Homo sapiens: one gene and its partners. The protein of the gene in region 6 purifies or fractionates together with the protein of the main gene of each other region. This does not show direct contact. Each region holds a gene or a part of one and is shown on either strand. Other genes may lie near its edges.

Region 1 (3,500 bases), on a different chromosome or scaffold from region 6:
CCCTGCTCCACATCCCGCTGGTGGAACGCCTGTGTGGCCCACCACTCAGCACCCTCCACCCCACCTGCCCCCTGCTTCTGCAGCTCCCCAAACTGCAGGGCCCCAGTGACGCGGAACAGCACGCTCACATCCTGCCCCACGGCATTGGTCTCCACCGACAGGTTGGCGGGCAAGATGGGCATGGCAGAGCCTTGGGCCAGTCGCAACCCTGTGCTGCGGTGGATCTGTATGGCCGGCCGGATGGCCACCACCTTCAGCGTGGCCGGGGGGCTGGCCTGCAGTCCATCGCTGACCCGGAACGTCAAGTCCTGTGCAGGACCACCGCGGTGGACATAGACTAGGCTGCCGGCCTCCAACTCCCGGCAGGAGAACTCGGTCGCCGGCTCCCCAGGCTGGTCTCGGCGCTCCACGGGGAGGCCAGAGGAGGTGCCAAGGACCTGGAAGGTGAGGCCCTCACAGGCAGAGTCCGGGTCATAGGCCTGGAAAACCTCAGGCCCCAGCGGCTTCTGCGTGTGTTCCAGGATCACCATGAGGCTGCCATGTGGGAAGATGATGTGGGGTGGGTCATTGACAGGGTTGACCTGGATGGGCAGGAGGTATGTTTGGCCCCTCCGAAGGCATGAGGGCATGGGCACCCGAGCCGTCACCGACACCTCCAGCACCAGCTGGTCGGAGGTGTCCTCAGAGCCATCGTGGATGAAGCGGGCCTTGCGGTTCACCACGTCCAGGAGGGTGAACATTTTTCGTGCCTGGGCTCCCGGGATGTCCAGCTCGAGCTCGCCATGGCGTGCCCCTCGGGTCACGCTGAACAGCACCTGGGATTTGCGCAGCTCAGCCTCCATCAGGTCCAGCGTGGGCTGCACATGCCTCCACTCAAGCCAGGCTGTGCCCCCCTCGGCCACCACCAGTGGGCTGATAGTCAGCAGCTGGGTGAAATTGGCAAAGACAGGAGGCAGCCCTGGCTCAGGCACGCATGGCTCAGGCAGCTCCATGGCTGGCCAAGCCTCAGGGGCCAGGGTGGAGAAAGCTTCATAATGTCCATAGGCATCGTCCTCATACTCCTCCTCCTCCAGCCTGCAGCCGGCTGCCATGTTGCGCGTCAGCAAAGCTTCCCGCAGCCCCCGCCTCTGGCCATTGACACTGAGGTCTTCCATGCAGCCCAGCAGGGAGGCATTGGTGGCCTCTGGTGTCAGGCCCAGGCGGTGTTCCTGGAGGTGACGAGAGGCCTCTGCATCCAGCCCCCCGAGAAGGAGACTGCCCCGTGGCTCCAGGTAGCTGAGGACTCCTCGGTTCGAAGTATGCGTAGGGTACTGGTCCACGGAGATTTCCAGCCGGTGAGCATTGATGTGGACACTGACCTCATGGGGCTGCCCATCGGCCACAGGCACACTGTTGTGGAGCAATACGGTACCCTGGCCCTTCTCCACCACGGCCCGCAGGTGGCCCTCAAATATGTCCACATAGATGAAGTCCCCACGCCGGCCCCCTGCCTGGAAGGCCAAGGGTGCCTGCCGGCTCTGTGTGGTGAGTGTAAACTCTAGGGTTCCTTCGTCCTGAGTGCCCCAGGCAGGGAAGGCAGCCAGAGAGTGGGGCCCAGAGAAGCCCAGGGCCACATCATCACTGGCAGAAAACTCTTCAGCACAGCCCTCATGCACATCGGGGGTCAGAGGCCGGAGGAGGCTGCGGCCATTGAGGGTGGCTGCATGGAGGCAACCCCTCAGGGGTCGGCTGGTTCCCCTCAGGTAGGGCAGGCCAAGGGTCCCAGTGCCCCCAACAAAGAGCCCATAGGGGACCTCTAGGGGGGCTCCTGGGACTGCTGAGGAGGCGTTCAGAAACCCATCGACTGACAACGTGGCCCAGCCCTCTACGACAGTCAGCACCACAGTGTGGGGGATGGAGTCACTCAGCAGCGTCTCTGCTGGAGTCTGCAGCCTCAGCTCCTCCTGGCCCAGAACAAGTCTGACCTGAAGAGAGATGGGGAGTGGGAGATAGTGGACAGCACTTTGGATCCATCATTTCCCTTATAAAAGCATAGAGCCGGGCGTGATTGCAGTGGTGGCTCATGCCTGTAATCCTAGCACTTTGGGAGGCCAAGGCAGGCGGATCACCTGAGGTTAGGAGTTTGAGACCAGCCTGGCCAACATGGAGAAACCCTGTCTCTACTAAAAACACAAAATTAGCTGGGCATGGTGGCGCATGCCTGTAATCCCAGCTACTTTGGAGGCTGTGGCAGGAGAATTGCTTGAACTCGGGAGGTGGAGGTTGCAGTGAGCTGAGATCATGCCATTGCACTCCAGCCTGGGCAGCAAGAGCGAAACTCTGTCTCAAAAAACAAACAAAAAAAAAGCATAGTGAGTTCCCCACACTTGGGGCCCCAGAGTGGAAAACCTAGGACAAGAGCCTCTGGTGCCACTCCTCTTGCCGTCCTGCCATCTCTTTATTCATCCTCCAAACACTCACCAAAGGAAACTCTGGGCCAGGGCTGGATGGGCTCTGGGGACCCTGATATGAATCAGATGTGGTCCTCGCCCACAAGGAACTGACATACAGCAAGATGCTCTCCTAGAAATCCAACCTGTGTTTTTAAATTCTTCCCCTCTTTCCTTGAGTGAGAGGTGCCAGAAATATTGTCTTGGAATCTGGATTTCAACTTTGGAATAATGGGTAACTGGGAATCCCTTGATCAGTCCCCTTCAACAGAGCAAAGTTTCTTGGGGTCATTGAAGGCAGCCAGGCTCACTGTTCAGGAATAGGCTAATTTTTAAATTAAAATTTAAATACTCTGTGTTCTGAAAAAAAGCTCCCTGACCTGGGGTGGAAGGAGATCTTGGGGAGAGATGAAGGACATAGTTCTGTCTCCATGACATTGACAGCAGAAATGGCTCTGGTACGGTGCTCCCAGATGGTAGAATGGGAGGTGGCAGAGTATGGTAACTGCAGAACCAGGGCACTAAGAACTATAATTTTGGAGTCCTGGTATGGAGCATCTCTGTAGGGGTGTGGCATCATTGTACCTACAGAACTGGACAGCCATCAGCACCAGCCTGCACCACGCTGGTGTTTAACAGTGAAAGCAGCAGACTGACCAAGCCCTAGTCCTCTCCCCATGGGGTGTGGAAGGAGATGGCTGCCCCAAATTTGTTTTTTTTTGAGACGGAGTTTGGTTCTTGTTGCCCAGGCTGAAGTGCAATGGTGCGGTCTCGGCTCACTGCAACCTCCTTCTCCTGGGTTCAAGTGATTCTCTTGCCTCAGCCTCCTGAGTAGCTGGGATTACAGGCATGTGTCACCATGCCCGGCTAATTTTTTTGTATTTTTATTAGAGACACGGTTTCACCATGTTGGCCAGGCTGGTCTCGAACTCCTGACCTCAGGTGATCCACCCGCCTCAGCCTCCCAAAGTGCTGGGATTACAGGCATGAGCCACCGCGTCCGGTTATTTTTTTCTTTTAAAAATAGAGATGGGGACTCATTGTGTGGCTTAGGCCAGACTTGAACTCCTA
Region 2 (3,500 bases), on a different chromosome or scaffold from region 6:
GTTTTTGGAATGGCTGAATGTTCATGCTGCGTGCCTGTCCTGAACTGCCTTTTTTCCTCTATGGGTGAGGTCTCTGCTCTGTTGGCTCACTATTTCTTTTCCCTCCTACTCAGAGTTAGGGGACGGGCTGGATTACACATGCTTAATCGCTTTATAAAATAAGGTTGACCTAGTTCCATAGAAACGCAAGCCCCTTTAACTGTTTAGAGATACCAGCCAAAGAAATGGAAATGCATGGCAGGAATTATTTTCTGCCTTCATTGATGGAACAAGAGAGAGCAGCACCTATTCATAAGCAGATATTTAGGTGTAGATGTTTAATGAAGAATAGCATCTTCACTAACCTTTTAATGTATTATCAGGGAATGTAGGATTTGTTGACATGAATTGTGTGATGGGAGAAAAGTTGAATAAATATCATATAGGTAGAGTACAGGGATATGAATTCCCCCTCCTCCACTTCCCCCATCATCCCTGGGGCTGTTACGGTTGTGACTTCAGATAAATCACTTTAACTGTTAGCCTCGTGTTAACTCATCTGCAAAATGGGAGGAGAGGGGGGAGGCCAGATTATTACTAATACGTTCTGATTCTTGAGATAATTTTGTTTACTCGTCAGAAATATTTATCCCCTTGGCATTTTAATTTGTTTTTCTTTATCACTGCCTCCTTTCCTCCTCCGGAGATTCAGAGAATCTCTGAAGCTTAATGGTTTGAGGTAATTAATACATCTGATATGATCAGGTGATCAGCCTGTAACAGTAGTGTGTAGTCACTGCACACACTGCAGTTATAGAAAAAACATGTTCTGTTTAATCCACCTGTCAAGATGAATAGCACAAATCAAGGAAGTAATGTGGAATATAGTTTTATAGTGCTTTCTTGTTGTTGTGTTGGAGATCCAACTTAGTGGGAGAATGGTGGAAAAATAAGAATCGGTCAACAGTTTCTTCAAGTTCACTCTGGTGTACTTGAAAGCAGTGAAATCTGTGGCCAATATTGAAATATACATCGAATAAAATTTTCTGTTCTCTTTCCAGACTGCCATCAAGAAGAATAACCCACGGAAATATCTGCGCAGTGTAGGAGATGGAGAAACTGTAGAGTTTGATGTGGTTGAAGGAGAGAAGGTGAGAGGAAATTGTGGTTGGGTATCAAAGTGCTGGCACATAGTACTGTTGCACAATAAATTATCTATCAGCCCCTTATGAATTGACATGACTTTGGAATTTTTGTACAATAGCAGGAAGTGACTTTTAAACAGAATTTTTTTTTTTTTTAAGATGGGGTCTCCCTCTTGCCCAGGCTGGAGTGCAGTGGCGCGATCTTGGTTCACTGCAACTTCCACCATCCAGGTTCAAGTGATTCCTCTGCCTCAGTCTCCCTAATAGCTGGGATTACAGGCATCCACCACCACGCCCGGCTAATTTTTGTATTTTTAGTAGAGACGGGGTTTCACCATGTTGGCCAGGCTGGTCTTGAAACTCCTGACCTTAGGTGATCCACCTGTGTCAGCCTCCCAAAGTACTGGGATTACAGGTGTGAGCCACCACACCCAGCTAGCAGAAATATTTTTGACATTGTCATTATAAACATTCTGCAATAAAGATACTTTAATTTCTTATTTAATAAATGATCAACTCTGATTATGGAAAGAAAAGCTGATTTCTCAATTTAAAAATAATTTATATTTTTATACCAAAGGTATGTATTTCGAAATGCAGATTAAAATTTAACTATCTTATGTATTAACAATATATTAAAAGTGCTTTGCAGCTGGGCGTGGTGGCCCACACCTGTAATCCCAGTACTTTGGGAGGCTGAGGCAGGCGGATCTCCTGAGGTCAGGAGTTCAAGACCAGCCTGGCCAACATGGTGAAACCCGTCTCTACTAAAATTACAAAAATATCTGAGTGTGGTCGCACTCCTGTAATTCCGGCTACTCAGGAGGCTGAGGCAGGAGAATCGTTTGAACCTGGGAGGTGGAGTTTGCAGTGAACTGAGACATTGCACTCCAGCCTGGGGGACAGAGCAAGATTCCGTTTTTTAAAAAAAAAAAAAGAAAAGAAAAACTGCTTTGGGGCAAAAGATTTCTTTTATCAAAGTAAAGTTTTCAGGCTGACTTGTAAGCACTTCTACCTACAAATAATACATGGTAAAGAATATTTTAATCCCAATAAAAGGAGATCGAAATTGAATATTAATCATTTTGTTTTCTGTTTGGCTTGGATTTTGGGAAGCTGAAGGTACCCTGATAGACCCTAAGATAGCTTCGTCCGGGTGAACTGAATCCAAGAAGTTAAGGGATTTTCCTGAAGACTAGCTACAGAAGTTTTTAATACTGTTATATATTTAATTCCGTGTCTGTAATGCCCTTTATGCTTTGTGTTTAGTCTGTTATAGATACTAGTAAAACAATATTGAGTAAGATTAAAAACACGCTAAAACTACATATAGCACAACTGCCATGGCAGCTAATCATGGCAGCTGAATTATAAATTAACTGGATGAGAGGTTAACTCCCTGTATGTGCTCCTCCCATATACACATATACCATTCCATAGGTCATGTTCCTAATGGCTCTCAAACCATTGTGTTTTAAAAGAAAAACAATTTATTTCATTGGATGCAGAAATTTAAGTGATTATCTTTACCGGTGTGATCCCCAGGGTATCTTGTAAGTCTTTTAGATTTTCAAATCACTCACCAGCACCTGCCACTCTGTGAGGATCTCTGATATCCCATCCAATTTTTAAAAAATTGTTTTGGGTTGATTTTTCTTCTGTATGTTTTCAGAACTCAGGGTTTTACAAAGTGATGTAGGGTGTGAAATACACTCTCTGAAATCTTCTTGGTCTACATTTTTTTAACATTTTTGAAACATTTTCCATTTGTCCATATGAGAATAAGAATTCTAAATCTGTTTCAAGGATAATAGGAAAGGCTAAAGAAGGACTACATGTGTGGAGAATATTATTCATCAAAGACCCTTTCTTCTTGTTGCTGCCAAAATAGGAGAAGTTTCACTCAGTACCTTTGTGCTGGACAGAGAATCATATGAGCCCATGAATAGGGATTGTCCTCTTGGTACCTCCTAGACTAACATAGGTTTCAACACATTCTAGGAAAATAACAGTATCTCAAGTCTTTCCCATTGAGGAATATTCTTCCTGGTCTAGCATTGCTTCTACTTTGACAGTTGTATATTTGCTAATTTATGTTCTTTAAAGAGGTTACACATTGCTTTTGCGATTGACATTACTAGACAAGAAAGCAAAACTCAGGTTGTATGAGCAAACAAGCCATATATGTTTAAATCAGGATGTGAAGTACCTTGCTCACTTTGTTTAAAACCTAGATCTGTTTTTAAAATCACAGTGGGAATTCTTAGTATGTTCTGCCAGTCTTATACTCTAGCAGTCCAAGGCTGTTTTTTGAGTTAGTGTATATTCTTTTTAATTTTGAGGCCATCTTTTTATTTTCTTCTCAGGGTGCAGAAG
Region 3 (3,500 bases), on a different chromosome or scaffold from region 6:
TGAAGGGGGTTATTTTGGAGCCGCGGAAGTTAAGGGAATCCATAATATTAACAAGGGAGTAATCAGTGATGTTGGATGCCTCCTAGAGAGAGGCCACTGAATCTGGATATTATAGTGCTACCAATAATTTTTGAGAGTTCAATTTCATGAGAATACTACAGACGGAAACTGTATTTAATCGTACTTAAATCCTTTGTGTTTTTAAGATGTTTTGTTTTGACCATTAGGTGAAGGTAACTCGTGCTGATGGCAACCAACTGACTCTTGAAGAAAGAAGAAATAATGTAGTCATAACAGTGACACAGAGAAACTATACTGAGTACTGGAGCGGATCTAACAGTGGAAATCAGAAAATGGAAGCTGTTCAGAAAATAAATTATACTGTCCCCCAAAGTGGAACTTTTAAGATTGAATTCCCAATCCTGGAGGATTCCAGTGAGCTACAGTTGAAGGTGCCGTCTGTTTCCCATCATTGTGTCACTGCAACAACACCATTACAGTTGTAATCTTGTGGTAGGCACTCAACCTGTCAGAACTGAAAGTACATAGGAAGTGGACACATGTTTCTGTTTCACAAAATGGAGGAGAGTGGTAAAAGTAATTTAATGACAGTGGCTGAAGGTTAGACTAAATTTTTCCTTGTAAGTTCATTTTGAAGAGCACAGTAAAATATAGCAATGTGAAGATATGATGGAGAATTTCCTCAAATCCCCAGTCTAGTGTTTGAGGTCAGTCATTTGAAATTTTATTTTGGCAGGAATTGAAATGAAAGATAAATATATATACATATATATATATACACACATATATATGTATATGTATATGTGTGTGTGTATATATATATATATATATTCCTTTCCTGTGTTTTAAAGCTATCAGTTTCTTTACAGTATAAGCTATAAAATGATGAAAATCCAATGTCTGGTGAATGTATTTTTCTTGCATTAAAAAAAAGTGAAGATGAATTTGGTCTTTAATAATTGTTCAGCAGGTAACATCTTTTCTCAAGGTGTTACTAAAGATGAACATTTACAGCTCCTTTTTCTTTTATTATAGGCCTATTTCCTTGGTAGTAAAAGTAGCATGGCAGTTCATAGTCTGTTTAAGTCTCCTAGTAAGACATACATCCAACTAAAAACAAGAGATGAAAATATAAAGGTAATGCTTACAATTCACTTGAGAATTACAATATAATTGGACTATCTTGCTTTTGATATGTACATATTAATTAAGGTTTTTTTCTAGGTGGGATCGCCTTTTGAGTTGGTGGTTAGTGGCAACAAACGATTGAAGGAGTTAAGCTATATGGTAATCTCTTATAGAATCTAAATTTATGATCTATTATAGAATCATCTTTTTATTCACTTTTAAGTTCTGGGGTACATGTGCAGGTTTGTTATATAGCTAAACTCATGTCATGGGGGTTTGTTGTACAGATTATTTCATCACCCAGGTATTAATCCTAGTACCCATTAGTTATTTTTCCTGATCCTCTCCCTCCTCCTACCCTCCACCCTCCCATAGGACCCAGTGTCGGTTGTTCCCCTCTATGTGTCCATGTGTTCTCATCATTTAGTGTGCACTTATAAGTGAGAATATGTGGTATTTGGTTTTCTGTTCCTGCATTAGTTTGCTAAGGATAGTGGCCTCCAGCTCCATCCATCTTCCTGCAAAGGACATGATTTTATTCTTTTTTATAGCTGCATAGTATTCCGTAGTATATGTGCACCACGTTTTCTTTATCCAGTCCACCTTTGATGGGCATTTAGGTTGAGAATCATCTTAAATGGTGTCTACCTTATATCTACACTAAACTTATTAATTTTTATAACTCAGCCTCATACCTTTTTAGCCTGTCGTTTTAACATTGCAATCAAATAAAAAACCTTTTTTATTTCTTCACCTATGTTTGCATTTCCAATTTAAAATAGATAACTAAACCTTGTTTTATGTTTAAAATTTAAATTTCTATTTGATAAGCAATATATATTCATTATAGAAAATTATACAATGTAAGAAAAATGAAAAAGAAAATAAAAAGTGCTATCCATGACCATGTAATTTTGCTAATTCAGCTTTCCCAATGGTGCCCTGTATTCCTTGCAATCAAAAATAGATTCTTGACTATGAAGCTACTGTTGCTCCAATCAGTATTACTTTAATCTTACCATTTTCTTTTTCTCAGTGTATGCTCTCTGTGTTTGTCAGAGAGGTTTTCCTGCATTCCAAAAGACTTTGAAGCTGGTTTAATTCAAGAATTTGTGTGTATGCATACAATTATGATTAATGTAGCTTCAGATGAGATCCTACTAGGTTTGGCAATAAATTAAACCCATCTACTGTTCTTTTCAGGTAGTATCCAGGGGACAGTTGGTGGCTGTAGGAAAACAAAATTCAACAATGTTCTCTTTAACACCAGAAAATTCTTGGACTCCAAAAGCCTGTGTAATTGTGTATTATATTGAAGATGATGGGGAAATTATAAGTGATGTTCTAAAAATTCCTGTTCAGCTTGTTTTTAAAAATAAGGTAAGATTTAAGGTAATGATGTTTAAAAGAAAACTTTATATTAGTGAAGTCTGAGAAATGTAATATTTCTTTAGAAAAGTATCATTAAGCCAAACTGGTTAGAAATTTATATTATTCTATTTCTAGAACTATGGTTAAACTTTTCAATATTTAGCATTACATATATATTTTCACTTGTGGAGTTATTGGGGATTGATAGTCTATTTGTAAACTATGGTTCTGGTCTTTAAGACTTTAACTCAGATCATGAAGCTGTTTCAGAATTTTTCAAATGGTTGAATTAATATTGCTCAGGAGTGAAATTCCAGTGGTAACATAGAATTCGTGTGGTGTTGATATTGCAGTGATATAAAGGGTGTGGGAAGGAGTGAGGCCATCTAGGATAATACGTAGAAGCAGAGCTGGGCTTTCATTAATCTATTTAATTAGCTGGAAACTAGCCCAGGGCAACTTTTCAATGAGCTTGATTACCCTGCATGTGAGGATCTGTGTGGAGTCTGGTCTCCAAGTGCACCAGTGCCTTTTATAGCCTAATGTGACCAGCTTGAGTAGGAAATCCCTTTGGACCCCAGCTCTGAAAAGAAACCTGATTGCATCATCTCATGTATATAAGAATGAGCCATTGCTGTCACTAACAACTGCTGCCCTCTCCATCCTCTTATGTAAAAAATTATTCCTTTAAATAGTGATTTGCAGAGTATGGTTCTTCTATTTCTTTTTCCTTTATTTGTTAAAATATTTGAGAAGTAACAGTAGTGATCTGTACTTTCTTTTTTAAAATTTGTATTTATTTATTTTTTGAGACTAGGTTATAAGACTGGCTAATTTTTGTATTTTCGGTAGAGAGAGGGTTTTGCCATGTTGCTCAGGTTGGTCTCTAACTCCTGGGCTCAGGAGATCCACCTGCCTCAGCCTCTCAAGGTGCCGGGATTACAGACATGAGCCACTGCGCCAGGCCTGTACTTTAGTTT
Region 4 (3,500 bases), on a different chromosome or scaffold from region 6:
CCACAAGCATCCTTTCCTAATATCCAGCCAACCTCATGCCATGTACTTCAGCGTGAATACGCTCAATCCCTTGCTTCTCCCTGTCAGACAGGACAATCTCATGCTTCCGCGGCTATCCATTTGCCTCTCTCCCGTCCCAAGTTCAGATAACTTCAGGGTCCCAGTGGTGAACAAACTTAGTTCTCACAAATCTAAGCCCAGATGCCCTTTAGTCTCCCATCCCATCAGGTTGAGCCTGAACAATCTCATGATGCTACAAACTTAAGATCAGACAAACTTCTACACTCCCTTCTCTCACTCGACCCTAGACAATCTATTTTTTCTTTTTTTTTGAGACGGAGTCTCACTCTGTCGCCAGGCTGGAGTGCAGTGGCGCAATCTTGGCTCACTGCAACCTTCACCTCCTGGGTTCAAGTGATTCTTCTGCCTCAGCCTCCTGAGTAGCTGGGACTATAGGCGCCTGCCACCATGCCTGGCTAATTTTTTGTATTTTTAGTAGAGACGAGGCTTCACCATGTTGGCCAGGATGGTCTCGATCTCTTGACTTCGTGATCCACCCGCCTCGGCCTCCCAAAGTGCTGGGATTACAGGCGTGAGCCACCATGCCCGGCCCCCTTTTTTTTTTTTAATTGAGACAGGGTCTTGCTCTGTCACCCAGGCTGGAGTGCAGTGGCGTGATCTCAGCTCGCTGCAGCCTCCACCTCCTAGGCTCAAGTGATCCTCCCACCTCAGCCTCCCCAGTAGTTGGAGTTGGGAATACAGGCACATGCCACCATGCTCAGCTAATCTCTCTCTCTCTCTCTCTCTCTCTCTCTCTCTCTCTATATATATATATATATATATATTTTTTTTTTTTTTTTTTTTTTTTTTTTGAGACAGAGTCTTGCTCAGTCGCCAGGCTGGAGTGCAGTGGTGCGATCTCGGCTCACTGCAACCTCCGCCTCCTGGGTTCAAGCGATTCTTCTGCCTCAGCCTCCCGAGTAGCTGAGACTACAGGCATGTGCCACCATGCCCAGCTAATTTTTTTGTATTTTTAGTAGAGACGGGGCTTCACCATGTTGGCCAGGCTGGTCTCGAACTCCTGACCTCAAGTGATCCACCCGCTTTGGCCTCCCAAAGTGCCGGGATTACAGGCGTTGAGCCACCGCACCCAGCCAATTTCTCTATTTTTTGTATAGATGGGGTCTCCTCATGTTGCCCAGGCTGGTCTCAAACTCCTGAGCTCAGACAATCCACCCACCTTGACCTCCCAAAGTGCTGGGATTACAGTTGTGAGCCACCATGCCCAGCCCATCCTACAAATTGAAGGTCAGAAACACTCCCTTCTGTCACTTGTCCGTGGACAGTCTTTTTTTTTTTTTTTTTTTTTAAACAGAGTCTCGCTCTGCTGCCCAGGCTGAAGTGCAGTGGTATGATCTCGGCTCACTGCAACCTCCGCCTCCCAGATTCAAGCAATTATTCTCCTGCCTCAGCCTCCTGAGTAGCTGGGACTACAGGAGTGTGCCACCACACCCGACTAATTTTTGTATGTTTCGTAGAGACGGGGTTTCACCACGTTGGTCAGCCTGGTCTCAAACTCCTGACCTCAAGTGATCCGCCCAGCTTGACCTCCCAAAGTGCTGGGATTACAGACATGAGCCACTGCGCCTGGCCGGACCCTGGACAATCTTATTGTCTTTTAAATTTTAGGAAGATGACCTTTGGTACCTCTCTCTCACACTGAGCCAAGACAATCTCATGACCCTACATCGTTGGGTTACAGGTATTTTATGTCCTCTTACCTCCACTGATTATCTTACCCCTACTCTCTGCCTGAAGCACCTCACAGCCCTGTGAACCCGGGTAACCTTGGGCTCCATCCTTGGGCGTGGTCAGTCTGCTCGCCTCCCCGCTGCCCCCTATCCTGAGCTCCAACCCATCCCTGCTCACCCCGGTCCCCAGGAAGGACTTGAAAGAGCTGATAGTCACAGGCCCAGGGCTGGGGCACATTGTGCTTCTGCAAGGCTCGCCGGACCACGCTGGGGGCTTTGTCCTGACTGGTCAGCTGGAAGAGAGGGGCGGGAGGTGAGGTGAGGGCCCCGGCCCCAAGGGCAGGGCAGCCTCCAGCAGACCCCCAGCCCAGCCCCTCACCAAGATGCTTCGATACAGGTTCCCGTGGTCATTGTCGATGCTGACGCGGATGACACGGGCCTCCGAGCTCTGCTGCGCCGGGAGGGGGATTCGAGGGCTGCCCAGAGGCAAAGCGAAGGGCCGGGGGCTGGGCAGGTCCAGGCTCAGGGGCAGCTGCAGGCAGTAAGGGGTGGAGGCTACAGCTTGGCCCATCTGCAGATGCTGAGGGCTAGAAAAGCACGAACACCCCAGCCACCACTGGTGCATTCAATAGCCCCACATTTAAAATCTCAAGAAAACATTGGCTGGGCGCAGTGGCTCATGCCTGTAATCTCAGCATTTTGGGAGGCCGAGGTGGGCGGATCACTTGAGGTCGGGAGTTCAAGACCAGCCTGGCCAACGTGGTGAAACTCCGTCTCTACTAAAAATACAAAAATTAGCAGGGCCTGGTGGCGCATGCCTGTAATCCCAGCTACTTGGGAGGCCGAGGCAGGAGAATCACTTGAACTTGAGAGGCAGAGGTTGCAGTGAGCCAAGATCACGCTACTGCACTCCAGCCTGCGTGACAGAGCAAGACTCCATCTCAAAAATAAATAAATAAATAATAAAATAAAATAAAATCTCAAGAAAACATACTACTACCCCCTACACATGCAGAGCCTGGGACATGCAACTGGAGTACATTCACAAGCCTGCATATACACCACCCTACCATATACAGACTTTGGTTACCTGTTATAGAAACAGACATGAACAGTGTCCATATACACACAACCCATGCTCATACACAAGAAATCCTGTGTACATACATATGCTGACAGCGGTTATACACCCACAGCCCATGCCAATGAACAACCCCACACATGATCTCATGAATACTCAGGCCCACATTTCCTCTTCTGGTACACAGATTCTTTTCTTTTTCTTTTCTTTTTTTTTTGAGACAGAGTCTTGCTCTGTCACCCAGGCTGGAATGCAGTGGTGCCATCTCAGCTCACTGCAACCTCTGCCTCCCAGGTTCAAGCAATTCTCATGCCTCACCCTCCCAAGTAGCTGGGATTACAGGCCTGTGCCACTATGCCCAGCTAATGTTTTTATTTTTAGTAGAGACGGGGTTTCACCATGTTGGCTAGGCTGGTCTCAAATTCCTGGCCTCAAGTGATCCACTGGCCTCGGCCTCCCAAAGTGCTGGGATTACAGGCATGAGCTACCATGCCCAGCCTTCATTTCCTTCATTTCCTTTTCTTTTTTTGTTTTTCTTTTAGAGGGAGCCTCGCTCTGTCACCAGGCTGGATGGAGTGCAGTGGCACCATCTCAGCTCACTGCAACCTCCGTCTCCTGGGTTCAAGTGATTCTCCTGCCTCAGCCTCCCAAGTAGCTGGGACTACAGG
Region 5 (3,500 bases), on a different chromosome or scaffold from region 6:
GATACACTGTCTGAACAAGCACCAACTGAAGGAGCTATGCCTGAGAGAAGGAATTCAAGATCCACCAAAACATTTACCAAGGGTTCCCCAAGACCTGCACTGGAAGGAAAGGGTGCTGATATAGGTCAAATCCCTCCACTTGGCCATAGGATTGGATCTCTGTGCCTGCTGCCGTCATAGATGCTTAGACATCAAATGCCTGGTCTAAAGAAAGACTAAGATACAGACAAAAAAGGATGCTATTTGTTTGGGTTGGGATGGTACGATGGGGAGAATGAAGCTCCACATGCAAAACTTCATTCGCTTGGTCATTTGCTTATTTAGACATCAACAAAACATTTTTTTGAGTGCTTTGCATAGTGCCATGCACTTGTGGAGGCCACATGGTGTTCTTGCTTTCAAGGAGACTACAGTCTCTTAAGGAGACAGACAAGAAAACAGTTTCAATGTGGGGTGATTGAATAGTGTTACATATAAATGCTTTCTTTTTTGGAAAAGAAAAATACAATACATGTGATTTATTCCTTTCTTTTTAAAGGGATTTTTTATCTTATGCTTTGGAATACTCTTGGACAGTAAGGTATGTGTATTTATTTCTCTCATTAACCCCTAGCCTAGACATCTTAGGCCCCCTCCCCTTTGTTCTGAGGCCTTTATTCATATAATAAGAGGTGGGACTATTGGTACTTTTGTAATAAAATTCTGTGCTTTTAGAGAAGTCAGGCTCAGTCAGAAAACAAAGGAACTAAACAGTCACTGCTGATAAAGCTTGCAGAACTAATCAAACATGTAATGTAAACGTTGTCGGAAAAAAGGGGAATTCTTTTTACCTTTAACTTTTCTAATTTAAATTATGGTATGGCAGTAATTCCATAGCAAAATTGCTTTGCTAACAGGTGAATTCTCTTTTGTTCTTTCAATTATTCTACCCATTTATTTAGAATATGCTGAAATATATATCTACTTCTATACTTGTAGAGTTTTAAACAGTAAGTGTTAATAGCCTCTCACAGACTATTATTCTAAGTGAAGTAATTCAGGAATGGAAAACCAAGCATTGTATATTTTCACTCATAAGTGGGTGATAAGCTTTGAGGATGCAAAGACATAAAAATGACACAATGGACTTTGGGGACTCAGGGGAAAAGGGTGGGAAGGGGGTGAGGGATAAAAGACTACAAATTGGGTGCAGTATATACTGCTCAGGTGATGGGTGCATCAGAATCTCACAAATCACCACTAAAGAACTTACTCATGTAACCAAACACCACTTGTTCCCCAATAACCTATGGAAATAAAAATATTTTAAAAAGTAAAGTATACTGTTGAAGAAAAATAAATAAATAAATAGCCTCTCACATTAAATAAAATTCCCAGTGAAGAACAGTAAGTTTAAATGAAAGATAATAGAAAAAAATTTTTAAATATACTTGTTTCATAAACCCAAGCATTAAACAATTCTGTTGGGAGAGGTGAAGGCCATAAGCTAATAGATGTATAGTCTTTGTTTTAATAAGAAAATAAAAAATTTTTATAATTAGCAAAATTGTTGCTAATTATAGGAACAATTTTGCACATGAACAAACTGCTATCTACAAAGAAGCAATTTGCTGTTCTTAATTGTACTAAAAGTAATTGCCTTGTCTTACCATTCATGTGGTTAGGAAACTCTTCACTTCAAAGATACACTTCAGTTTAGCAATTATTGCCAACTACTAATGTCTAAAATTGGAATGAGTATGGCATTTGGTACTGTTGTTCTTTGTTGAACTCTAGTTTTGTTTATAGGTAAAGAGATGAAGAAAATAATCTTTCTACCAGATATCCATTCATGGTCTACTAACTGCTTCTAGGAAATAATACTATTAAATAACCATTTCAACCTGCAGTTGTTCTTGATTTGTCTGTGTATGATTGTATGTGTATCTCCTCAATATTTCTTTGTTGCCCTTATAGCTGCGACAACTTCTGTTCAACAAGTTGTCTGCCTTAAGTTCTTGGAAGCAAACAGAAAAGGTAATTATCTCCTACTGCCATGAATCCAATACATGAAGTTCCAGTTTTGCATTCTTCTCTTTATACAGTCTTGCTGCAAGCCAACTTCTGTGTAAACCCCTTGAATTTCTTTCACCATTATATTCCTGGTATCTGACATGGAGCCTGGCACATGAGTGGTAGTAAAGAGTTGTTGAGTGAATGAGTGATTAAATGAGTGACTGTGAAGTCATGGAAACTTACAAGGATGCTCAAGTATGGAAGTCTGTGGGTGCTTGTGAGTGAATACTTTTGAACAATGGCATTTACTTTAGTCTGACTAGCTTATCAATATTTAGAACTAGCAAGGCCCTTTTCTTCATCTGACTTTCTGAACCTTCTGTAAACCATTTTTCCTTCTCTAGACAGATAAAATGAGAGATCTTGGTTAAATTCTTGTCTTTAAATTTGGTTAACTTCTAATACATAAAAGTATTATGTATTAATAATTTTCTTTTTTTAGGCTGCTATCACTGATTCTGTTACTTGCAATCTTAGCTCTTAAGTCTACAAACCCACAAGTTTTTAAGGAAATGGAGGATTTCTGTATCATTCTTTGCCATAAAAGTATAATCCATATGGGGATAGTATATTTAGAAACAAAAGTGCTTGAACACATATTTTGTGTTTTCAATATTATTTAGACTTTTGTTTTTCAGCGAGGCACTGAGGGCCTTTCAGAAGGAGTTCTAAAGCAGAGAATTTCTTTATTTTATAAAAGTCAACTGACTTAACTGCATCCAAACCTATATGGGTATTGAGAGATTTTTACAAGTGACAATATAACTTTTTGAAATAAAAATCAATAAGGAAATTTTCCTCTGGCATTAAAAAGTCTTCCTTGGTCTGCATTTTTCAGTAGACAGCACTGCTGTGAATTACGGAGCACTGGCCCATGAGCAGGTGGACCAGTCCTGCCCTTGTATTTCTGACTCCGTAACCAATTGACTGTGTGATCTTAGGAAAGTCACTTCGTCTCTAAGTTTTAATTTTCTCAACTGTAGAAAATAAATGTTGGACTAGTTATTCAAAGCAGAAGTTCTCACATTCTGGGATTTAGATTTTATGTCTGGAAGAACTAAAAATCACTCGAACCAGAAGTTGTGAAACTAATGAGTCATTACCTACACTTAAGAAAAGGAGAAAATTACAGCACATGTGACTACATAAAAGATAAAACCTTTAGTGAATATAATGAGACGGGACACTCCCCACCCTGCAAAGCAGAAAGTCAAAATTTTTCTCCTTTGAAAACCAAAGAAGGAAAAATACTCCCAAGTAAAATAAAACAAAAGCAAAAGCAAGAATGCCTAACAGTTTCTCTCTGTTTCTAACATCAAGCACTGACACTTCTGAGAAGGCAGTGTCTGTATTTGTACCTTCTCCCCAATTTCATTTCCAAATTAGGTGACAAAAATGAGATTTTGTTGCTGGTTAGGTGGCTCATTTGTTTTAAAATAAATATA
Region 6 (2,759 bases):
TACCAAGCCCACCCTTCCCTTCCTACCATTGCTGGGCAAAGAGAACTGGGCCACAAATGGCTCCCGGGCAAAGACGTCATCCTCATCGTTGTACACGTAGGAACTCAGGACCTGTGTTTTGTGTGACCTGGGAGGACAAAGGGATGGGCAGCAGTGGCCCCACGTCTTTGATTTTGGCTTGCAAGTGCCAAACGGCGCTCAGGGAGGGGCCCTCCACTAACAGCGGCAATGTGGGCACAGCCCTCCCAACCTGTCTCTAGAACTTTCAAAAATCAGGCATAATTCATATGCCATAAAATTCACCTGCTTCAAGTATACAACACGGTTCTTTTGTACATTCATAAGGCTGTGCAACTATTTCTACAATCAATTTTAAAACATTGGTATCCATTACTCCTAATAAAAACATAACATCCATTACCAGTTACTCTCCATTCTCCCCTCCCCCCAGCCCCTGCAACCATTAATCTGTTCTCTATCTTGTACATTTGCCTATTCTGGATATTTCATATGAATGAAATCAGCTCATCAATGTTTTCTGCGTTCGTCCATATGCTGTGGCACGTCTGTGCTTCATTCCTCTTTCTGGCTGAATAATATTCCACGGACTGGGTATAGTACATTTTGACATTTGGACACTTTGATGTCATTCTTTTTTTTTTTTTTTTTTTTTTTGAGACATGGTCTCACTCTGTTGCTCAGGCTGCAGTGCACTGGCACAATCATAGCTCACTGCAGCCTTGAACTCTTGGGTTCAAGTGATCCTGCTGCTTCAGCCTCCCAAAGCGTTGGGATTACAGGCATGAGCCACTGTACCCTGCCTACCCAGTAATTTTGGAGCGCATACCAGATGTCATATCATTTTATTTATATAGAGAATCAGTTCTCCTTCCCTGCAGCCTCCCTTGCCCTCTGGATCCTGACTCCAAAGGGCTCCCTGCCAGCCTGTCCTCCCAGGGACTTAGAAGATCGGGTCTACCCAAGGCCCATAAGTGGTCCCCACGGAGCCTCTTCCCAGGAGCTGCAGCCCTTGCTGGCCACTTTCATAGAGGGGGCCAGCCACACCCTGAGCCCCAGCAGCTCCCACAGGAGAGAGGAGGAGGGACCCCACATTTGTGCTTATAGAAGGAAGGCCTCCTGCTCTATGGACACTCTGGCGGGGGTCGAGGATGGGAAGAGCCCAGAATAAAAGGTGTTGAGAAGAGAAAGCATGCAAAGCAGGTGAGGCTGTCCCAGGATGGGGGGCCTGTGGCCCCGGGGACTAATGAGCCTACCTCACATTAGGGCCAAGGACCGCCCCCCACCCTGCTGCGCTGCCAGCTCCGTGCTCACCGATAGAAGTACACATACGTCTCCATGTAGGTGCTGCGCCCCAGCTGGGGGCTGCTCAGGGTGCTGTAGGGCCCAGAGCCATCAAATCTGCCAAGAAAAGGGGAGGCGGGGTCAGGGCCTCAAGCCTCTGGGTGTGCCCCTGATTAGACCCACAGAATCTTCCTCACCGATTGAGTTCTCGAAGCAGGAGCGGGATGGCGCTGCCGGAAGAGTCCACCACCTCCTGCAGCACCATGATGTCACAGCGAGCCAGTATCTGTGGGACATCAGGAAGGCCAGCCTGACTCAGTGCCAACTGCCCTGAGAGGAGGCAGTGGGCCCAGGGGACTGGCACTGTTGTGGCCCAGAGTGTTAAGGCTCACTGACTGCAGCCCACAGAAAGCAGTGGGACTGGAAATGCCCCAGGAAAAGACTCATCCCACCCACATGTCACCTGTTTCACAGAGGAGGAGACTGAGGCCAGCAGCAGGCAAGCGCCTGCGCTGCATCTCCGTGCCACACCTCTTCTTCTCCCCTCTTCTCTAGAACATACCCCTGGTCAGGCAGGGATGGGGGCTTTGGCTCATGGTGGTTAGGGGCACGGCTTCCCTGAAGTGATGAACTTACCCGAACTAAGGTGTCCATCACCTGCTCCCTGGCCACCTTGGCCAGTGTCAGCCGCTGGGCATTGAAGGCGCAGATGCGAAAGGCCTGGGCCCCATTGGCCAGGATGAGGAAGAGGAGTGCAGTTGGGTAGTGCATGGCTGTGTGTGGCTGCCGGGGACACCCCAGGAATCCAGGCTGCCCCAGGGTGCGCTCTCACTGGGCTCAGTTCTGGCTCTGGAAGCGCTGAAATATGGAACAGAGAAAGTGGCACTAGCTGCTGCCCAGCACCAGCCTCCCAGTGACCTCCCGAGATCATACCACTGCACTCCAGCCTGGGTGACAGAGTGAGACTCTGTCTCCAAAAAAAAAAATTGTTTTTGAGACAGAGTCTTGCTCTGTGAAGATCAAGCCAAGATCGCACCACTGCACTCCAGCCTGGGCGACAATAAGACTCCGTCTCAAAAAAAAGTGAAATCCTACAGTATTTGTCTTTTTGTGACTGGCTCATTTCACTGAGCAAAATGTCCTCAAGGGTCATTCATGTTGGAGCATATGTCAGAATTTTTTTTTTTTTTTTGAGACGGAGTCTCACTCTGTCGCCCAGGCTGGAGTGCAGTGGCGCAAACGCGGCTCACTGCAAGCTCCGCCTCCTGGGTTCACGCCATTCTCCTGCCTCAGCCTCCCGAGTAGCTGGGACTACAGGTGCCTGCCACACGCCCGGCTAATTTTTTGTATTTTTAGTAGAGATGGGGTTTCACCATGTTAGCCAGAATGGTCTTGATCTCCTGACCTCGTGATCTGCCCGCCTCGGCCTCCCAAAATGCTGGGATTACAGGCGTGAG
Region 7 (3,500 bases), on a different chromosome or scaffold from region 6:
TTGAAGATGTATCTGCTTCCTGGGAAAGAGATGGAGTAAGAAGGTGGGGTATGAACAGCAGCCCTGGTGGTAGGAACTGTCTCCCCACATGGTCTGGGACAGACGCTCAGGGAGTTTCTGGGAAGGAGTGTGTATGTCCCCATGTCCTCGTGAGTCCAGCCTGGTGACATTTGAGGAAGTGAGGCTAGATGTGCAATGTGCCACATGGACATGGGAGTCACGCAACCCCTGTCTTCACCAGAGACAGCTGTCAGCAGCAGAGCTTCCCCGGGGGCAGGACCCACCAGAGGGAAGCCAGGCCCACACTGCTCTCTGTCATTGCCTCTTTTGGGAGTTGCCATTTTATAAAGCAGGCAAATCCCACCTCAGGGTTCATGCGTTTATTTTAAATTTTTTGTTTTTCAGTTAAACTTATTTTAAAGTTGTGTTCACCAAAAGCAGTAAGACTACAATGGTATATAAGGAAAAAATTGCCCCCATTCTCCCCACACACACACTTTGAAGCTGTGTGAGCAGCCTGGCTTCTGTCTTTCTGTATATCCTCCCAGCCACATGTGGAGGTCGTGTTTCATTTGCATGTTTTTACAATAACAAAGTGGGGCTACCGCACCCGCACCCACAGTCACCTTGCTCCTCTCATCTGCCCGCAGGTCCTGGAGGTTCCTCCAGGTCTAAGGGCCCCATGGTCTTCCACAGTGTGAGGTGCTGGTTAATTCACTCGCTGTCCTGCTGGCAGATGACCTGGTAGATGCAGGACTTCTGCTGGGCCATTGCACTGACTTCATTCTGCTCTGCATGGGTCCTATGGATTCATCCCCCTCGCTGCCCCACACCTCACCTTCTGCTGTCTTTTCTGTGTTAGGCAGCAGTCCTGGAAACTTTGGAATCCCCTTTACCTTGTTTGCCACCCAACGTTCCGTTGGTCATCAGGTCCTGCAGCGCCATCCCCTTTCCTGCTGTCCTTCCCACTCCACCAGGCACCTGAGTTATTCGCAGGCTCAGCCTCCCCAGCCTCCCTCCTGGCTGGCCCATCCTTCAGACCTGTTGGGGATCTTTCCTTCCCTCATTTGCATCTTCTCACACCTAGAATGACCTTAGACCTTAGCGTTCCAGTCTCTACACAGACCTTGCCCTCACTGCAGTCTCTGTCCCTGCCCATGCTGGCTGGCCTCAGCCCATACCCTGCCTGAGGCTGGGCCTGCAGGTCTGGCACCATTGTAAGATTGCACAGGAAAAGGACTTGGTGCTTTCTGAGAGCTTCTGCAGTGTGTGCATGTGGGTGTGCATGTGTGTGTGTGCACGTGTGGATGCATATCTGTGCACGTGTGTGAGTATGCATGTTTGTGTGTACATGTGTGTATTCATCCACCAGTAATCCTAATTTCCATCTCTTTATTTCCTACAGTAAGAGTTCCCTATTTCATTGATTTGAAAAAACCACAGGATCAAGGTTTGAATCACACGTGTAACTACTACCTGCAGCCAGAGGAAGACGTGACCATTGGAGTCTGGTGAGTGCCAGTGAGCTCTGCAGCCCCTCCAGCAGCAGGAAAGGACCCTACATGACTGAGCTGGTGCTGTCTTTGACATTGGCCTCTGAAATGTTGTTCATTTTTATCTTCACCTCTTCCTTTCCTAAAGGAAAGATCTCAGTACATTTGATCCATCCTAATGTTGAGGGATTCAATGGCTTTAAACTCTATTCCCAGCCTTTCAAAACAGCAAAGGCTTTGTGAACAGATTATTATTTTTAGAGAGACTTGTTTCTAGGAAAAACGAAAAGCAAACAAAGAAGCTAGAAACAGGATATAAGTGGCCGGCACAGTGGCTCACACCTGTAATCCCAGCACTTTGGGAGGCTGAGGCAAGTGGATCACTTGAGTCCAGGAGTTTGAGACCAGCCTTGGCGACAAGGTGAAACCCCATCTCTACTAAAAATACAAAAATTAGCCAGGCATGGTGGTGCACACCTGTAATCCCAGCTACTTGGGAGGCTGAGGCAGGAGGATCACTTGACTCCAGGAGGCAGAAGTTGCAGTGAGCTGAGTTCACGCCACTGCACTCCAGCCTGGATGACAGAGCAAGACTCTGTGTCCAAAAAAAAGAGAATATAAGGGAAGAATCACAAACACTGGTTTGAATATATCTTCCATCCAGGCGCGGTGGCTCACGCCTGTAATCCCAGCACTTTGGGAGGCCGAGACGGGTGGATCACTTGAGATCAGGAGTTCGAGACCACCCTAAACAACATGGTGAAACCCCGTCTCTACTGAAAAAAAAATACAAAAATTAGCTGGGCATGGTGGCACGCGCCTGTAGTCCCAGCTACCCGGGAGTTTGAGGCAAGAGAATTGCTTGAACGCAGGAGGCAGAGGCTGCAGTGAGCTGAGATTATGCCACTGCACTCCAGCCTGGGCAACAGAGCGAGACTCTTGTCTCAAAAAAAAAAAAAAATATATATATATATATATATCTTTTCCAAGAGGTGAACATCTAGATACTGAAAACAGCTTGATTTCTTTTCACATATAGCTTCGCACCAGCTGATGATGATGGTGTTGGCTGTCTTCTGAGTATTTACTTTTTTAAGCCATAAGTTTACACTGGACATAAGCCTTGTGACTTCTCTGTGTCTCCTTGGAATACATTTTAATGTTTTCTTCTGTACACAAGTGGTGCTTCTGAACAGCTGAATTAAAATTGACCAACCTCACTGTAGCATTTCCGTTTTTCTCTGAGAAGTGAGCCTGAATCACAGCCCTTTTATCTAGCTGAATTTATTTTTCAGTAGCCATAACGTCGCTTTCCACTGTCTCAGAAAACCACTGTGTATGTGAGAAGCTTCTAAATGAAATGCTGTGAGTAGCTTCCCAGTGTGGATGAGAGAACATTCAGACATTTCTAACAGTGGTCCTTGGTAAAGAACATAAAACAAGAAGGGAGATTTTTGTTCTTAGTAGTTGGTGCTGGGATTAAAGTCTTTTGTCACTTCCTGATTTGATTTAATCTAGCATTTACTGACCAATGTGTGACTGTGGGACTCCTCAGGTTTCTGTCTGAAGCATGACTTGTTTTGCACAGAGCTGCTGAGTGGGACTTGGTCAGCCCTCTTCTTGGTTAACATGAGTCTGTCCTATTGCAGGAGGGTGTTTATGGTGGTGAGACTTAGGCTGGAAGTACTAACAACTCCTGCATACATTATCAGCTACCAGAAAAGGTTTTGTTTAGTGATGTCAGTGGCAAGTGTCAAGGCAGTGACAGCCACGCTGTGTGTTGCTGTGTGTTGGTGGGTGCGTGTTGGTGAGTGCGGCTGCTGCCCACTCTCATGCCCTAGGCAGTCACAATGACATTGGGCCCTCAGGCAGCAGCAGGCCCAGCTCACCAACTGCCCCCACCATCGCTTCATCAGACCCTCCCACCAGCTTCCTGAAAGGAGGGCCTCAAGGCCTAGAGTGGAGCCTGGGGGCCATTCCTGGCCATGCCTGGCCATCGCCTGTCTG

Evidence for each region.
Region 1: the proteins of DNASE1L1 (region 6) and CSPG4 purify together in Homo sapiens (affinity purification with mass spectrometry; one large-scale study listed by BioGRID and IntAct). This does not show direct contact.
Region 2: the proteins of DNASE1L1 (region 6) and YBX3 fractionate together in Homo sapiens (co-fractionation; one large-scale study listed by BioGRID). This does not show direct contact.
Region 3: the proteins of DNASE1L1 (region 6) and CD109 purify together in Homo sapiens (co-immunoprecipitation; 2 studies listed by BioGRID and IntAct, with this or other methods). This does not show direct contact.
Region 4: the proteins of DNASE1L1 (region 6) and RGL3 purify together in Homo sapiens (affinity purification with mass spectrometry; one large-scale study listed by BioGRID and IntAct). This does not show direct contact.
Region 5: the proteins of DNASE1L1 (region 6) and ADGRF1 purify together in Homo sapiens (affinity purification with mass spectrometry; one large-scale study listed by BioGRID and IntAct). This does not show direct contact.
Region 7: the proteins of DNASE1L1 (region 6) and ABHD12 purify together in Homo sapiens (affinity purification with mass spectrometry; one large-scale study listed by BioGRID and IntAct). This does not show direct contact.

What each region holds. Positions count from the first base shown.
Region 1 is NC_000015.10:75,688,849-75,692,348, forward strand, and holds part of CSPG4 (chondroitin sulfate proteoglycan 4 precursor), read right to left. Parts: intron 1,965-3,500; coding exon 1-1,964. UniProt on the Homo sapiens protein: Proteoglycan playing a role in cell proliferation and migration which stimulates endothelial cells motility during microvascular morphogenesis. May also inhibit neurite outgrowth and growth cone collapse during axon regeneration.
Region 2 is NC_000012.12:10,713,324-10,716,823, reverse strand, and holds part of YBX3 (Y-box-binding protein 3), read left to right. Parts: intron 1-1,040; coding exon 1,041-1,130; intron 1,131-3,490; coding exon 3,491-3,500. UniProt on the Homo sapiens protein: Binds to the GM-CSF promoter. Seems to act as a repressor. Also binds to full-length mRNA and to short RNA sequences containing the consensus site 5'-UCCAUCA-3'. May have a role in translation repression.
Region 3 is NC_000006.12:73,765,703-73,769,202, forward strand, and holds part of CD109 (CD109 antigen isoform 1 preproprotein), read left to right. Parts: intron 1-227; coding exon 228-452; intron 453-1,056; coding exon 1,057-1,158; intron 1,159-1,245; coding exon 1,246-1,308; intron 1,309-2,352; coding exon 2,353-2,529; intron 2,530-3,500. UniProt on the Homo sapiens protein: Modulates negatively TGFB1 signaling in keratinocytes.
Region 4 is NC_000019.10:11,395,315-11,398,814, forward strand, and holds part of RGL3 (ral guanine nucleotide dissociation stimulator-like 3), read right to left. Parts: intron 2,284-3,500; coding exon 2,131-2,283; intron 2,045-2,130; coding exon 1,930-2,044; intron 1-1,929.
Region 5 is NC_000006.12:47,004,333-47,007,832, reverse strand, and holds part of ADGRF1 (adhesion G-protein coupled receptor F1 isoform 1 precursor), read left to right. Parts: intron 1-538; coding exon 539-580; intron 581-1,956; coding exon 1,957-2,016; intron 2,017-3,500. UniProt on the Homo sapiens protein: Adhesion G-protein coupled receptor (aGPCR) for N-docosahexaenoylethanolamine (synaptamide), an omega-3 fatty acid lipid highly enriched in the brain.
Region 6 is NC_000023.11:154,403,496-154,406,254, forward strand, and holds part of DNASE1L1 (deoxyribonuclease-1-like 1 precursor), read right to left. Parts: intron 2,161-2,759; 5' UTR 2,074-2,160; coding exon 1,939-2,073; intron 1,589-1,938; coding exon 1,500-1,588; intron 1,420-1,499; coding exon 1,333-1,419; intron 128-1,332; coding exon 27-127; intron 1-26.
Region 7 is NC_000020.11:25,321,336-25,324,835, reverse strand, and holds part of ABHD12 (lysophosphatidylserine lipase ABHD12), read left to right. Parts: intron 1-1,405; coding exon 1,406-1,511; intron 1,512-3,500.